2 separate regions of the Homo sapiens genome follow, and region 1 is linked to region 2. The links come from fine-mapping of genetic effects on gene expression. Tissue or cell type: sun-exposed skin. Region 2 holds a variant in brackets; the other region holds the start of a gene. All regions are shown on one strand. Distances are between the middles of the regions.

Region 1 (5,378 bases), 42 kb before region 2:
GTTAATCAGACATCTTATGTGATGGCTCAGGGCTCCAAGAGGGGATTGTTCCAGTGAACAAAGTTGGAGGCTGCTGGTCTTTTATCATCTAACCTTGGAAATTACCTAGTATCATCTCTTATGTACTCTGTCAGTTGAAGTAGTCACAAGTTTCAAGGATAGGGGACAGAAACCCTACCCTTTGGTGAGGGACTGTCAAAGAATTTGCAACCATATTTCAAAGCTGCCATATACATGTTGGGGGAACCAGCCCCACACCAACCGGCGGGTACCCCGAGTCCAGCGGAGACACAGGAGTTAGAAAGAGGCAGAATAAGCATTTAAAAGGTGGGTCCAGGGGACCGTTGTGTAGGAGGCTTGCTCATGGCCCAGAGCTCTTGGGCTCCAACTAATTTATTGTTTTACAAGCTCTTTGTTCTTAGGGCAGATGGGAGGGGGAGGAAGGGATGAGGAAAAGGATTAATCAGTGAAGGAGAACTTGTGAGTCATTCAATAAGATGTACAGCAGTGGTGGTCTCTGTGAATTTCCTTGAGCAAAGGCGTGTGTCTAAACTACTTAAGATTGCGTGTGTCTAAACTACTTAAGATCTTTAACTTATTGGGACTGAAAGGGGTGGGAGCGGGTTTCAGGAGGAGCCAAGATGTTTGATTATACTCCACTGCTTCCAGGGCGTGTTATCTCCCTGAGCAGCCTGTGGAATGCCCCCGAGCAGTTATGCTCTCAGGGCATAAAGACATGAAGGCAATAAGGAGACTTTTCTCCTCAGAGGTCACCCATGGCTCCCCATGGGTGTCTCACACAGGGGAGAACAACTCAACTGGCACTCCAGAAACTCTTTTTCCCACAATACATGTATGTATATTTGAGTGTGATGATATAACCACACCTGCACCTGCAGTTCATCACAAGTACCCCACACAATCTGGCATTCAAAGGGTTGTATGTCTTGGGAAGAGGAACTCACATCCTGTTGGGGAATCACAGGTTTCATGAGTGAGCCAGGTCCTGAAGGATATAAACTGTGTTACAGATGGAGATGGAGGAGGAACTGTCCAAGCAGAAGGAATCAGGTGAGCAGAGACATAGGGAGAAAAATGATCATGACAGGCAGGAGGAGAATTCTGAGGGTCTGCTACGGCCGGGGGTAGCCTCATGAATGAAGAGGTCTCTGAACAGGGCAAATAGGCAAAGATCAAGGATAGGATAGGGCAAGCAAGGGTTACAGAGCAGGACAGGGAAGGACATTGTAGGATGGAGACTTGAGGGAGAAGGAGGAATTCAAGTTCTAAAAGAGTAGGGCACTTGCTGATGGGGAAGGGTTCCCAGAGGCGGAAGGACTGAGAGTGGTAAGTGCTTCCTTTCACCTTGAAAATAAGGAGGTACATTTTTTCCTTAGGGGTAAGAGCAAAGGGAAGAAATGGATTACCGATGAGTAAATTTTGAAGTACAGAGAAGTAAAGTGGAGGGCTGGCTTCAATCTTTTGAGTAACGTAGGAGGTAAGGCTATTGACTAAAAGTGAAAAATCACTGATATATATGTTAGACATTTGCACAAGTTTCTATGAAAATACAAAATATGACTTGTTTAGAGAACTTCAGTAAAGTAGGCAAATGTTCAGCTAGGTGTTGGAATGATTAATTGTACAATTCAGTTTTGTGTATTTTAAATGTTTTTCCTGATTACAAAAATAATATATATCCACTGTAGAAAATTTGAAAAATATTAAAAGGTACAAGAAAGGAAAGTCATCTATATACTCTACTATTACCCAAAGACAACTGCAAGGAGATAGTTTTATTCCTATGCAGTTGATTAATAATGCAGATGTCATTTTATTTTGTAACAAAATACAAATATTTTACATATTTGAGATTCTACACAGTTTTGCTTCAATAGTCTTTAGACACAACTTTAATGTGTTTAATGTCTATATGGTGTCCATGCTGTAGAGATGCCATAACTTATTTAACCATTCTCTATTTTGGAATATTTAGATTGTTCTGAGTCTTCATTATTTCATCTATACCGTGTGTGTGTGTGTGTGTGTGTGTGTGTCCCACATGTGTATGCACTATATTATACAACTACATGTATGTATATATAGATACCGTCTATGACCAGTCTTTGTAAGTAAGTGCCTCTCTGATTGTTTTTTCTTAGGACATATCACTGAATCAGAACAAATAAACCCTTTCAAGGTTCTTGAGACGTGTCGCTAAATTGCCTTTCCAGAAAGGGTGTACCAATTTTTATTTTCATCCACAAGCAGGCGGCTCGCTGACCCTCGCCCACATTTTTGTCACTTTAAAAAGAAGTGACAGTTGGGAAAGCTCAGTTTCTTCTGGCAGTTGACACATTTGGGATGTTTTTTCACCAAAAAACCTAAGGTCATGTTTTAGAAAATTCGAACTCAGAAATAGGACTTCTCTGAGACTCTCCTTTTCCCTCAAGTCCTTTTTGTGAGGGGGATGGGTGGGAGAGAGGAGACTGATTCAAGGAGCCTTCCAACTCTGATGTTCTGGTATTTTCACCGTCATTACTGGCACCAGATTGCTCAATCCTTCGACCAATAAGACAAAGAAGGAAAGTACTTCAGCGCTTGCTGTTTTGTAATACTGGCTTTGATTGGGAGAAAATAAGTGGGAAACAAGAGTAGCTTGGACAGGGGGCTTGGACGGCCAGCGCATTGACCAGAAGCGGCCCACACTACACGCGCGCGAACACACACACACACACACGCACACGCCGCGCGCGGTCAGCTAGAGTTTGGCTACTGGACCCAGGAAGGGAGGGAGCGGGAGGAGCTGGTGGCTGTCGGGTCGGGGTCTGGGCGCCACCGAGCGCCCGCCCCACCTCTGGAGTGCGCAGAAGGCGGTGCGTCCCGGGCCCCGGCAGCCCAGCCCAGGCGCTCTGGCCAAGTTTGCGCGCGGTCTCCGCTGACTCTCGGGTTACCTGAGCCGGCAACCACGTCAGCGCCACATCATCTGGGCTTTTTATATTGCAAGGAAACAGGAAAAGAAGGAAGAAAAACATCGCCCGAGAGAGCCAATCGCAGGAAGACGGCGCTGCCCGGAGGAGCGGGGCGGGCGGGCGCGCGGGGGAGCGGGCGGCGGGCGGGAGCCAGGCCCGGGCGGGGGCGGGGGCGGCGGGGCCAGAAGAGGCGGCGGGCCGCGCTCCGGCCGGTCTGCGGCGTTGGCCTTGGCGGCGGCGGTGGAGAAGATGCTGCAGTCCCTGGCCGGCAGCTCGTGCGTGCGCCTGGTGGAGCGGCACCGCTCGGCCTGGTGCTTCGGCTTCCTGGTGCTGGGCTACTTGCTCTACCTGGTCTTCGGCGCAGTGGTCTTCTCCTCGGTGGAGCTGCCCTATGAGGACCTGCTGCGCCAGGAGCTGCGCAAGCTGAAGCGACGCTTCTTGGAGGAGCACGAGTGCCTGTCTGAGCAGCAGCTGGAGCAGTTCCTGGGCCGGGTGCTGGAGGCCAGCAACTACGGCGTGTCGGTGCTCAGCAACGCCTCGGGCAACTGGAACTGGGACTTCACCTCCGCGCTCTTCTTCGCCAGCACCGTGCTCTCCACCACAGGTAGGGTATCCTGCGCGCCCCCTGGCCGCCCCGGCCACCTCGCCCACAACCCACACACCCCGGCCCCGGCGCCCCGGGCCCCTCTAACCCTCCCACCCCACCCCCCACCTTTCGCCATCCCGGCTCCTCCAGCCCGCCTCCCCTCACTGTCCTCCCGACCCTCCGACCTTCCCCTTACTGGCGTCCCCGGCCTCTGCCTGGGTGACTCGGGAGGGCAAGCCCTGCGGAGCCGGAAGCCAGAGAGGTGACTCCAGACGTGACTTGGTTGTTGCCGTCCGTAACTCTGGGGAAGTGGTCCCTAACTTCGGCCTGGGTGGCTGCAGGTGCTTCCTCCCCTTGAGTTCTTTTTTCGCAACCCACTAAGCCAAACTGTCGGGTTTGAATGTGTAGCAGCACCTGGCCGCCGTGCGGCAAGGCAGCGGGATGATGGAAACTCACCACCTTCCTCCCGCACCCATCCCAGAGGCCGAGGCTGCAGTCTGGTAATAATACCTTCTAAAGGGTCACCTTCCGGAGTGTGCCGTCCCTTTGGACCATGCACAGATATTCCAGCTCTTTTGTACCTTGGAGGCAGTTTTGGGGGTAGCCGAGTGACATCACTCTGCTCTTCCCAGGTGACCTCTGGGCGGACAGGCCGATCCGGTTTCTTTTCAGAGTAGGAGGAAGGGTGAGGGAGAGTAAAGGAACCATAGGATTGCCTAAGATCTGACTTAATTGGGGCACCCTGATTCAGCAGTTCCTTCAACTTGAGGTGTGCGAGGCTCCCCATAAACTTCGAAGCGCCACGTCCCCGTACGACTCACCCGCGGGGCGCCCGGCCATGGAGGAGCCTCCTCAGGTGAAAGATGAGGCCGGGCGCATGCCCCAGGGCTCGGTCACTGTGCCAGATCAGATGAATGAAGGCCGAATTTCCCCAGCCGGACCTAGTAAGGCACATACCCAGAGTGGAGATATCAATTGGTATTTGGACAGTGGGAGGAATCTGAAAGAGCGTTCAGCACAGTCCCTTCTTTTGATCTATGAGATCCAATCTTTGAAATAATCCATCTCGTCATGCACAAGGTCACACACTTCCTAGTTACCAGTGTCGTCCTGGAACCTGGGCCTTGTGATTTCTCTGCCAGGACCACTTTGTAACCCCCCACCCTCAACCTTTACAGGTGAATCACATCCCTTTGTGTGACTCCCAACTCTTCCTTCCTCCCCACCCCCCTCCACCACCCAAATTATTGTGTATAATTCCCTTTGGGCTATATCTTGTTGACTATCTTGGTAATTACTTGGTAATGAGTAATAATACACTATTCATGTAGATCACATGAAACAATTATTCAGAGGTCTGGGGTGAATTACTAAACTGATGTAAATCTACCCTGAAATAAACAGAAGTGGAATTCTAGCTTGTATTGTGAGATCTAAAAAACTGTTAAATGTAGCGCTAGACAAGACAGACCTGTTATCTCACTTTCCAAAGAATGCCTGTTCCCTTGCCAATACAATTTAATTTTTCTTTCCATAACTCTGCCTCCATTGTCTTTACCTAGTCCTCTGTTCCTCAGATCATTTAGGAGTCACCATGCCTTTCCTTTGGAGTATATTTGTGCTATATTGAGAGTCATTCATTCTTCCCAGAAGTAAGTGTTTCCATGGGGCTACAGAAAGTTTACAACTGGGTCACAATGTTGGGTAAACATTTCGAAGGATGCTTATAGCGTGTGGTGTTTTCTTACTAATGATATTGTGAGGATAGAACAAGAATAAGAACAGTTTTGAGGAAAAAGGTTTGCTTTTATCTGGGTGGG
Region 2 (5,378 bases):
AGGTCTGGAGTGAGGGGGAACAAGAGTTAACAAGTAACAAACATGGGGGTGATTTAAAGGTTTCAGGAGCTCATGCTGTTCATGCCATAACTATCCATAGACCACATTCCCTGACTTTTTCCTAAATGCTTTCAAGCACGTCTCCCCTGTAACTATCCAGTACACTGGATGCTTCCTGGTTTGGTTACTAGAACAAGCTCCTCAGGGTTGGGTTGGGACTGTTTCTAGGCCATGCTGGTGGACATGCCTTTGCAGAGCTTGGCTCTGGTCACACACTCCTTCTGTATTATCTTTTTATTCTGATGCTTTGACATCTTGGGTTTTGCTGACACTGAAGGAACTGCCCTTCCCAGGGCTGGCCAATTCCTAAGGACAGTAAAGGACTCACCTGTGAGCATGCCTTTCCTATGCAAACTGAACACTCTGGAGCCCCATCCCCCAGCCACCTTCTTTATCAGGCTTTCACCTTCTGAGCCACTAATTCTCTGCCTCAGTCACCCCAGAGCCTGGTACCAGACAACTGGGACAACTCCTATATTCCAAAGCTTGCTGAAATGATTCAAACTAGCTAACCCTAAACCTGCTTATGCTGCTTCACCCATTTATTCCTGCAGAAACCACAGTAAAGTTCCCCCCTTGATTCCTTTGTGTCCTGACCAACTGATGTTTCCCTAGGTGCCCCCACAGCATGGCATGGCATGCCCCACTTTTGAAACCTGAACAAGCTGTCTTTTCAATTACAGATATCCCCTGGTCTGTTGGCCTCACTATACCTGAATAATAATAAAACTTACATTTTGAAACCTCTTCCCTGACTGATGGTTAATTGTTGTGTCAATTTGACTGGGCTAGAGGATGCCCAGGTAGCTGGTAAAACATTACATCTGGGTGCATCTGTGAGGGTGTTTCTGGAAGAGATTAGCATTTGAATCAGTAGACTGAGTAGAGAAGATCCATCCTCACCAAGGTGGGTAGGCGTTATCTAATTCATGAAGGGCCTGAATAGAACAAAAAGGGAGAGAAAGGGCTATTTGTCTTTTGTTGAGTTGAGACTTCTCTCTTCTCCTGACCTTGGACTGGGAGTTATGTCATTGGCCTCCATGGTTCTCAGGCCTTCAAACTTGGGCAGAATGGTACCACCGGCTTTCCTGGTTCTTCTGCTTGCAGACGGCATGCCAAGGGACTTGCTGGCTTCCGTAATTGGATAAGCCAATTCCCATAATAAATCTCTTCTTATATATCTATATATATCCTATTGCTTCTGTTTCTTCAGAGAGTCCTGACAAATATAAAGATTGATACCAAGAAGTGGGAGTGCTTCTAACGAATGTGGAAGTGGCTTTGGAAATGGGTAATGGGTAGAAACTGGAAAGAGTTCGGAGGTGCACACTAGAAAAAGCCTACATTGCTGTGAATTGACCTTTAAAGGTGATTCTGGTGAAGGCTCAGAAAGAAAAGAGGAGAGCTATAAAGAAAGCCTTAATCCTCCTAGAAAATACCTAAGTGATCATGAACAGAACGTTGGCAGAAATATGGGTAATAAAGGCCAGTCTGATAAGGTCTCAGAGGGAAATGAGGACCATGTTATTGGACAATGGAGAAAAAGCCATCGGGGTGGGGGGGAAAGGGAAGGGAGAGCATCAGGACAAATACCTAATGCATGCAGGGCTTAAAACTTAGATGACAGGTTGATAGATGCAGTAAACCACATGTATACCTGTGTAACAAACCTGCACGTTCAGCACATATATCCCAGAACTTAAAGTAAAAGAAAACAAATTTTTTTAAAAAGCGTCAGAGAACTTGGCTGAATTGTGCCTGTATTCTAGTGTTTTGCAGAAGGTAGAGCGGTGAACACTGAAATTACATATTTGGATAAGGAAATTTCTAGGCAAAGTGTGAAAGTTGTGGCTTGGCTTCTCTTGACAGCCTACATTAAAATGTGAAAAGAGAGAAAAGATTTAAAGACAGAATTGTTAATCAAAGAGAAGCAGCACTTAAAGATTTGGAAAATTCTCACCCTAGCCATATTATGAAGAATGAGATAACGGGTACAGTGGTTCATGCCTGTAGTCCTAACTGTTAGAGAAGTGGAGGCAGGAGGATCCCTTAAACCCAGGAGTTTGAGACTTGTCTGAGTAACATAGTGAGAGTCCATCTCTTAAAAAAGAATAAATAAATAAATGAGAAGGCACATTGGGAAAGAACACCAAGGGTGCGGCCAAATGACCATCTGATAAGGAGATTAGTCAACCAAGTGGAACCTGTTGCTCAAGGTGATTCAGAAGTAATTGGGGCTGCCACCTCCATCACAGCTCCAATGTGCAAAAGCTTGAGCAGGCAAGCATGGGACCTCCACAGAGAGCCCTTACTAGAGCAACATCCAGGATAGCCGAGTGGTAGGACCACCCCAGCAGCCCCAGACCTGTAGAGTCATAGACACGATTCTAGCTCTTGGAGCCACAAGGGCACAGAGCAACCTTTGGGGAGGGCCACCACGCCCGTGGGTTGGGAAAGCAGGACCACAGCCCTAGTGGGCCTGGGGGACAGAGCATTGAGCCAAAGAAGATTATTCTCCAGACAAAATTTTGGACTTTGCTAGGGACCTATCCTTTCTTCTTTTCTTTCTTTCTATTCTTTTCTTTCTTTTGAAATGGAAATGTCTATTCTATGCCTGTCCCACCATTGTATTTTGGAAGCCCCTTGACTTGTTTAATTTCACAGGCTCACAGCTGGAGGGGAAATTGCTTCAGAATGAATCATACCTTGCGTCTCACCCATATATGATGTAGGTGCTGTTTAAATGAGACTTTGGACTACAGACCTTCAAGTAGATACTGGAATGAGTTAAGATTTTTGGAACCATTGGAATGGACTGAATGCATTTTGCGTGTGAGAAGGACATGAAATTTTGGGATGCCAGGGGTAGAATGTTATGGTCTGAGTGTTTGTGTCTCTCCCAAATTTATATGTTGAAATCCTAACCCCCACCCTCTCAAGGTGATGGTATCAGGAGGTAGAGCCTTTGGGAGGTGATTAGGTTATGAGGGTGGAGGCCTCGTGAATGAGACTCGTGCCTTTATAAAAGAGACATAAGAGGGACTCCTTCCTCCTTCTGCCTTGTGAGATTAGAGTGA[G/A]AAGTCTATGAGGAAGCAGCCCTCACCAGACACTGAATCTGCTGGTGCCTTGATCAGAGACTTCCCAGCCACTAAAACTGTGAGAAATACATTTCTGTTGTTTATAAGCCTGTGGTATTCTTTTGTAGCAGCTTGAACAGACTAAGATACCCTTGGATGAGGAGCAACTGAGGTAAAGTGGGAAAAAAAAAAAACGGCTCCAATGCCAAGGGCATACTGGACAGCTCTTTAACTTATGCTTGGTGGTTGCTTCTCATCATTTTCAGTTAATCGTAAAGCATTCTACTTTTGTGGATTTCAAGTCCCTAGGAAAGGATGCTGAAGGAAACGACAGTTTTGTGAGACCATCAGTAATTGTAATGTTGACACCTCTGCATTCAAATGGGTTACAGGATTAAACAAGTGTCATCCAAAGGACCATCAGGATGGCTAGATAACAGAAAAGAGAGTTTCACTGGCAATACTGGTTTACAAACCTGGAAGAGAGAGTCTCCGGTGTGAACTGAAAATGCTCTCTCTGAAGAACAAAGAGAAGGTTAGAGGTTTTATAAAAAGGAGAAATGTTGCATATTGCTCTTTGAGAAGTTTCATTGGCACCAGTAAGGTTTTGAGGAGCTGGCAGGCTTCAACTGATAAGTGAGGGTGGTGCGTAAACCCAGTCTGAGAGTTGCAGCAGGTCGTCTCAGTAGTCGTTAGACAAAACTGGTTTCAGGTTACTGCAGGCAGTGTCAGCTGCCAGGCCTGCAGAAAATTATGTTTTTTGGAGCAATGTTCTTCACCCTGAGTGCTTTTTCCCCTTGGCTTATTGATTCTTTGTTGGGTATGACAAGAATGACTCATTTCATGTGATCAGCTTTCACACAAGGGTGACAAAGCTTCAATTATTTATTTCTTTATTATTTATTTATTTAATTTGGGACAGAGTCTCTCGTCGTCTAGGCTGGAGTGCAGTGGTGCATGATCATGGCTCACTGCAGCCTCAACCTCCCAGCCTCAATTGATCCTCCCACCTCAGCCTCCCGAATAGCTGGGACTACTGGCACATGCCACCATGCCCAGCTAATTTATTTAGTTTTTGTATAGACAGAGCTCACTATGTTGACTAGGGTGATCTTGAGCTCCTGGCCTCAAGCAATCCTCTCACCTCAGTCTCCCAAAGTGCTGGGATTACAGGTGTGAGTCACCATGCCCAGCCCAAAGCTTCGTTTTAAGTCTCTTTTATTTACTTTTTTTGGTCCTAGTCATAACACATTGTAAATATACTCTGTCAGAGAATTAGATAGCTTGTTGTTTTTTAAGTCTTTTCTAATTAATCTGTTCATGTAATTTAGTAAGAAAATATTAAAGGGAAATCTTGCCCGAGAGATGGCCAGTACTGAGTAAGAAGCCCATTTGGTTTGTGTCTGGGAGGATGGGCAGTGAGGATGAGTGAGGATGAGTTTAATTTAGCTTGGTGAGAGGGGGACAAATCCACCTTTTCACGAGAGCTGCTTTCTCATCGCTTTTTGTCCCCCTTCATCCACAACCCCCGCAGCCAAGGCAGTGTCAGTAAATTTTGGGATGGAAAAGCCTTAGGTAGGATTCTTATGTTTTCGAAATGTGACTGATTGGAATTGGGGGAAAGCTGTATTAAAATTGGATATGTGGTAAAAGCTGGATATGTGGTTATTACCCATATCCAGTAGTGGGTCATGTTCCTGTGCTACCATGATCTGCCCGCAGTAACCTAGCAAGACATCAAATCACAGTGTGCAGTAGATGGTACCGTTGAACAAGCCAAGCCATATTGTCTGCAGGGATCTGAGATGATAAAGAGATTATTACAGAATTTGTTTTCATAAGGAACTGTGTAATTATGATGATTAGCCAAAGAAATAAGAAAGAAAGAAAGAGAGAAAAAGAAAGAAAAGAAAAGAAAGAAAAAAGAAAAAGGAAAGACGAAAGAAAAGAAAGAAAGAGAAAGAAAAGAAAGAAAGAGAAATAAAGAAAGAAAGAGAGAGAGAGAGAAAGACAGCCTGGTCTGTTACCTATGCTGTCCTACTATAGCATTTAATATCTTACTGCAAATTTTACTAAGTTATAACTTAAAAGTGTTAATTTTTTTTTTTATCACTTTGACAAACTTAGCCTCCTACAGCAGAAGGTGACTGATCAAAAGCTGGACTGTCAACCAGGTACTCACCAGCTTAGAGAGAATGGAGAAAAGGAGTATAAAGAATTTGAATAATTGTATGTAACATA

Alleles and levels. Positions count from the first base shown, and alleles are read on the strand shown. Sizes are in standard deviations (SD) of each study's normalised expression.
For the expression in sun-exposed skin of the gene that starts at base 3,156 in region 1, G is the high allele of the variant in region 2 and A is the other (small effect, 0.20 SD a copy in GTEx).

Evidence for each region.
Region 1: it holds the start of KCNK1, and the variant in region 2 is fine-mapped to the expression of KCNK1 in sun-exposed skin (GTEx, PIP above 0.99). The same link has a PIP of 0.9 or more in unexposed skin.

What each region holds. Positions count from the first base shown.
Region 1 is chr1:233,610,951-233,616,328 of GRCh38, forward strand. KCNK1 (potassium two pore domain channel subfamily K member 1) reads left to right here and starts at 3,156. Exons shown (of 3, transcript NM_002245.4): 1 at 3,156-3,576. The coding sequence starts at 3,222. RefSeq lists enhancers at 2,282-2,934, 4,123-4,182 and silencers at 2,723-2,822, 3,183-3,252, 3,593-3,652.
Region 2 is chr1:233,652,586-233,657,963 of GRCh38, forward strand. The region is part of intron 1 of KCNK1 (potassium two pore domain channel subfamily K member 1); the gene reads left to right. Among named protein-coding and RNA genes, the nearest start is that of MIR4427, 31 kb to the left of the region's middle. The variant G/A (reference allele first, on the strand shown) is at 3,138.